2 separate regions of the Homo sapiens genome follow, and region 1 is linked to region 2. The links come from fine-mapping of genetic effects on gene expression. Tissue or cell type: whole blood. Region 2 holds a variant in brackets; the other region holds the start of a gene. All regions are shown on one strand. Distances are between the middles of the regions.

Region 1 (2,756 bases), 46 kb after region 2:
CTTCCCCCCATGCCCAAACAGAGACATTTGGGCAGAACACACACACAGACACACACACGTTGCAGCTGTGTGAGCCACCCACGCACACTGCAGACAAGCTTCCTGACCCAGTGTCCACGGCAGCTGTACCACTGTACACCCCCAGAGCAAGCTGGGCCACCAGCAGCATGCCAAGCCATGATCTAGGCCCCCCTCTAGCTCTGGTACTGGCCCTGGCACCTGGGCAGGTGAAAGGTACTCACCCAGCGCAGCCCCTGGATGCAGCTCGGACGCTGGTGCTCCAGCAGCAGCTGGTAGGAGCAGCTTCGGGGCCGGTGCATCCTTCTCAACACCATGTTGAGTAGTGTCCCCTCCGGCACCACGTCAGGGAGGGCTCCCACCCGCGGTGCTCCCAGAGCTGGGCTATCCTCCACAGCCAGGCCCACCTGCCAGCAGCTCTCACCTGGCCAGCCCACCTGTGACACGGGGAGGAAAGTGGACAGCCATGGGACACGACTGGGGCGGCTGGGCCACAGTACAACTGCCCCAGGCAGAACTACTTCCTTAGAGTCCTCTGGACTGGTCAGGCGGAGGTGCTGCAACCCTGCCAGGAGCTGGGGGGAGGAACAGGAAGACCTTCACTGGGGCCTGCCGGTCTGGCGCACTTAGGGGTCTCCAGCTGGCTCTTGGAAAAGATCAGGCCCTTCTTAGTCCTCTTTGGAATTCTGTCCCATCTCACTGCCCATGCCCCTGCAGGGATCTCCACTACCTCCCAGTATGAAGCTATAGATTCACTAGGTCTCCCAGAAATGCAGCTTCGGCTTAAACCCTTCTCCTCTCCTCCTCAGCCCTGACTAACCCTCCCTCTCCCACCCAAACTCCCCACCGTGTCAGCTTCCTCTCCCGCCCTCTCCTGCTCCTCCTCAACCCTGACCCCACCTTACCCACCTTCATGTTTCTTTTCAAGCTCGCACAGCCGTGCAGGCTCTAGCAAAAGGCTGGGGGGTCCCCAGCGACCCCCATCAGCTTTGATAAGGGGATCCGGAGGGTGCCAGTGGGTAAGTCCAGGTACAGTGAACTGGGCCAGTGCCTAGCTGGACTGGCTGCCAGGGCAGCAGGATGCAGGGCTCGGTGGAGAGGCTCCTCTTGGGTGAGTAGAGGGGTGGGGGCGTGGTGGGGGGACGCCACCCAGCCACCGGCGACAGGGAGCCCCGAGCCTGCGCCTTCGTCTCAGACGAAGGAGCCAGCTGGCACCGGGCGCTGAAGCAAGGCTGCGCTGGCACCGGTCCGGGCGGGAGCTGTCACACCCCCTGCGCTGCCCGCCCCCTTCCCCTCCCCAGGACTGGCGGAGGGGGCGGGGTGGAGGCGCCCTGCCTTACGGTAGAGGAATGCGTAGGGGAAGGGGGCCGGCACTGGCAGGCTTTGGAGTCCGCACCCGGGGGTACCAGAGTGGACATCCGCCTGAGCCCAGAGTATCCCCAGGGGGCAGGAGCGGCCCCGAAGTGTGTGGAGGAGGCCGCAACGGCCGGGGTGTCAGGGATCCGGCGGTGAGTGGCTGCACTGGCCGCCACGTGGCCGGGAGGAGAAATGCAAACAAGGAAACCGGGGAGAGCGGGGAGGGGGTGAGTCACTGCGGCCTCACCCGGGAGGGAAATCCGGGCTGGGGCCGCTTCCCGGCTGGGGGTGTCTGCCTCCTGTTTCGGTTCAGGGTCTCCAGCCGCCCGGGGGAGGGAATAGGCGGCTTTCCCGCGGGGAATCCCGCTGCCTTGCCTCCCACAGTTCCGTTCCCAGACCCACGCCCCACTGCCCCCTGCCCCAGCACACACACACCGGGAGCAGTTGAGGAAACTGAGGCTGGAGAGGAAGGACTGCTCTCCAGAACGGGTAGGGGCCCTAAGAGGAGATTGGGGTTGTGGCAGAGCTTCCAGGGGAGCAGAAGGTGTTCGAGTACCACGCCCCCTACCGCGCGCTCCCTGGTGGCCGGGTAGGTTGAGGCGGAGACCGGGCATTCCAGCGCCCTGCTAGGCAGGCTTGCTACCGAGGCTCCACGCCTCCCTGGGCCTCAGTTTCCACCACTGTGCAAATGGCCCAGCGCGGGCCTCTTCGCCCCACTCCTGAGAGGGTGGAGAGACAGTGGCCGGGGACAGCGACCCGTAATTCAGGACGATAATGAGGGTTTGGAAGGAGGTGAACGCCCCACCCCCAGCTTTTTAGGACTTTTTGCCCCTTCTCTTCCCTTTTCCCTTTGCTGTTGAGCCAGCCCAGACTGGGAAGAAGTATCTCTAAAAAGCCTATACCCCAATTTTGGGATGCCAAGCCCGCATCCTCCACCATGATTATTTTCTTGAAAGTGAGGAGAAGACTGGGAAGAGGTAGCTCTAAGAAGCCTATACTCCCAATTTTGGGATGCCAAGCCCCCATCCTCCACCAATTATTATTTTCTTGAAAGTGGGGAGAGAAATTTTAATTGTGATTAAAATCCCATTTTTAATGTATACATGTATAAAAAATGTTTCCCAGAAGCTTACTAAAATGCAGGCTCCGTCCCCAGCAATTCATATTCAATCCTATTGGCATGAAATGGAAAATCTGTATTTGGAACAAACACCCCAGGTCATCTGCTGTGTCCACACATTAAGAAACGCTGGTGGAGTTTTAAATGCCTCTCCGGGGAAGGAGGAAAGCCTGAGAATGAATCTGACCTCAGACCCAAATCCATTCAACGGAGTTCTGGTAATTTGGAAGAAGGAAGAGCAACCTGGAAACTGACAGGAAAG
Region 2 (2,756 bases):
TATCACTGTTCCCAGTGGCCCTCACACATGGAAGAGAAGGATCGTTTACTGCCCCCAAATTATTTCCTGGTACCGGGCAGCAAAGGTTTCTGTCTTATAAAGTGTATGAAGTTTAGCTCAAACTAGCCAGGCTGAAACTTTCAGCCACGTTCTAAGGAAACTGAGGCAGGGAGTAATTACATATCTTTGTTCTTCCCTCTGAGAATCCTCCCCAGGCCCCAGGCTCCCACCCCGATATGGTGCCTCCTGCCTCCTGTCCCCTGCAGTTCTAGAGCCTTCACTGTTTGGAAGGGAATTCCAGTGTCCTGGCTGGCTAAAGTGGCTGTCTAGCAGGTGAGGACGTGATAGTCACAATCACCTGGGGCTGCCCCCTGAGAGTCAGGCTGAGAGGCAAGTCGACAGTTTGGAACACAGAGTGAGAGCAGGATATCTGGGCTCTGACAAGGCTTTTCTAGTCCGTGTACTCACAGGCCCATCGTAGATGTGACTGTAATAGTCAACCAGACCCTCCTTCTCCTCCAGGTAGAAGCGGATCCAGTTATGGAAGCCAGTAACCTTGCCTTTTTTTACCTCACCTATAATAAAGAGTCCAAGATGGATAATCTGGGCTCCTTCCCCACCCTCCCCTCCAATCCCCTTTCTCCACCCCATGCCAAGGCTTCCCCCTTCTCCAGTCTCTGACTTCTAGCTGCTTGACCCCTTGCTGTGAGTCCCCAGAGTCTCTCACAGTCCTATCTCTCACCTCAGGAAGGCCCCCCTTCTGGCTCAAGCCCTTGGGAGAATCCTTCCTTCTGGTGATCCTGATGACCTCTCTCAGCCATTACTCCAGCAGCAAGCCAGGCTTGGTGGGAGTTTTATGGGGTAGAATAGGGGGGAACAGACCATGGCCCTCTTGGGAAGCAGCTGGCCAGGCCCTGGAAGCAAAGGACTGTTCAGAGGTAGGCAAACTTGCTCCCAGACACATGTCTTGTCCTAGATGTACCCCCTTGGGAGCCCCAGCATCTGGTCTTCTTTCCCCCTTAGGTACTCCAGAAAAGACTGTTTCTCAGAATGGCTCCTCAGACACCCCCCCGCCCCCCTGCCATATGGGCAGGGGAGAGTGCGTGGGTCCCTCCCTACTAGCTGGCTGGACTGCTGATTAATCCACACCCAGGGCTGCCCTGCTCCTGAGCAAAGCCATTCCTCTTCATCCCTCCAACTCTTTCTTTCCAAGAAAAGTGCTCCCACCTGAGAAGACATGTTCAAAGCCACTCGAGTCCCCCTCTTCATTGCCTCTTGAATAGAGCCCAAACCACATGTTCTTCAAGTCATCGACAAACTCTTGCTCTGAGCCATAGCGATCTGCAGAGGAACACAAAGGGTTTTGGAGAGGGGAGGCAGGGCCAGGTCCTGGGAGCGCTAAACAGAGACCTGAAGAGCTACTTGCTCCCACACGTCAAGAAACATGTGGGTTCAATCAACAAATGTGTTCGGCTGTTAATTCAATGATTATCTATGGGATG[C/T]CTATTTTGTGCCAAATCCAGATCTAAAGGCTGAGGATTCAGCTGGGAATAGCAAGGACACGGTCTCTATCTATATTACATTCCACTGGAGGAGTCAAATAATAAGTAAACAATAAGAAATATGATTTCAGATCAGTGCTATGAAGCAAAGTAGCCCGTAATGACGGGAAAGGGCTGGCACATAAGTTGGCGGGGGGGGGGGGTCTTCTAGAAAGGAACATCAGAAAGGCCTCTGTGAAAAGGTAGCACTGATCAGAGAGCTGAAGGATAAGGAACTTGCTACACAAAGATCTGTGGGGAAGATTCCTCCATGTAGAGGGAACTGCAAGAGCAAAGGCTCCAGGCAGACTTGAGTTTGCTACTCAAAGAACTAAAAGAAGTCAGTGAGGCTGGAGCAGGAGGGGAGAGTGGTAGGAGAGGAGGTTTGAGAAGCAGCCAAGGGTCAGATCCTTCAAGCCATGGCAAGAAGGTCAGGTCTCAGGCAAATAGAAATAAAACAAAAAATGTTTTAGATTTACTAATTGCTTTCTGTCCACCTAGTGCCTGCCATTTTAAGTGCTTTCAATGTAACACTGAATCCTCACGTTGAATCTTCATATAAGCTTGGTACTAATTATCCCCAACTTAGAAATGAAGAAACTGAGACGGACAAAGTATAAAACTCATGCAAGATCACAGTTAATGAAAGGTAGAGACAGCACTTGAGTCCACTCAGTCTAGCTCCAGAGACCAATCTCTTTAACAACTCTATAGCTTCTTGGTAGTGCAGAGCCACTGAAGGATTTTAAGCAGGGGAATTGTATGATAGGACCTTTTAAAAGATCACCCTGGCTGTGTATGTTAAAAAGGCAATGGGGTGGTATGAGTGGAAGCAGAGAGACCAGTCTTGAGGCTCATGCTTTGTCTACGTAAGAAGTTGATGGGGCTTAGATGGTGGTGTTAACTCCGGAGGAGGAGAGAGAAGCAGTAGGCCCAGGACATATTTTGAAGTGGGAGTGATGGACATTACATTACTGATGGAGGAGATGGGAGTAGGGAACTTTGAGGTAAAGAGAACAATTACATCTAACTACTAGGCTTTTGGCCTGAGCAACCGGATGGGTTATGCCCGCCATTTATGAAATGGGGAAGACCCAGAGAGGAGCAGGTATTTTTGATGGGAACCAAAAATTATTTCTACACTAGGTTCTGTGTGAATATCAGTTAGATAGCTAAGTGGAAGATGTTGAGAAGGCCCTTGGGAAAGTTCAGGGC

Evidence for each region. PIP is the estimated chance that this variant, and not a neighbour inherited with it, causes the effect. A credible set is the group of variants that fine-mapping cannot tell apart.
Region 1: it holds the start of RAPGEF3, and the variant in region 2 is the best candidate, but not a certain one, in a credible set for the expression of RAPGEF3 in whole blood (GTEx, PIP 0.89).

What each region holds. Positions count from the first base shown.
Region 1 is chr12:47,757,624-47,760,379 of GRCh38, forward strand. RAPGEF3 (Rap guanine nucleotide exchange factor 3) reads right to left here and starts at 1,257. Exons shown (of 28, transcript NM_001098531.4): 1 at 928-1,257; 2 at 243-455. The coding sequence starts at 933. It also overlaps a transcript of SLC48A1 not described here. RefSeq lists enhancers at 468-1,136, 1,137-1,805 and a silencer at 1,077-1,426.
Region 2 is chr12:47,712,048-47,714,803 of GRCh38, forward strand. ENDOU (endonuclease, poly(U) specific) reads right to left here. Exons shown (of 10, transcript NM_001172439.2): 7 at 1,228-1,341; 8 at 469-575. All of the region lies in intron 1 of RPAP3-DT (RPAP3 divergent transcript), which reads left to right. Among named protein-coding and RNA genes, the nearest start is that of RPAP3-DT, 7.3 kb to the left of the region's middle. The variant C/T (reference allele first, on the strand shown) is at 1,503.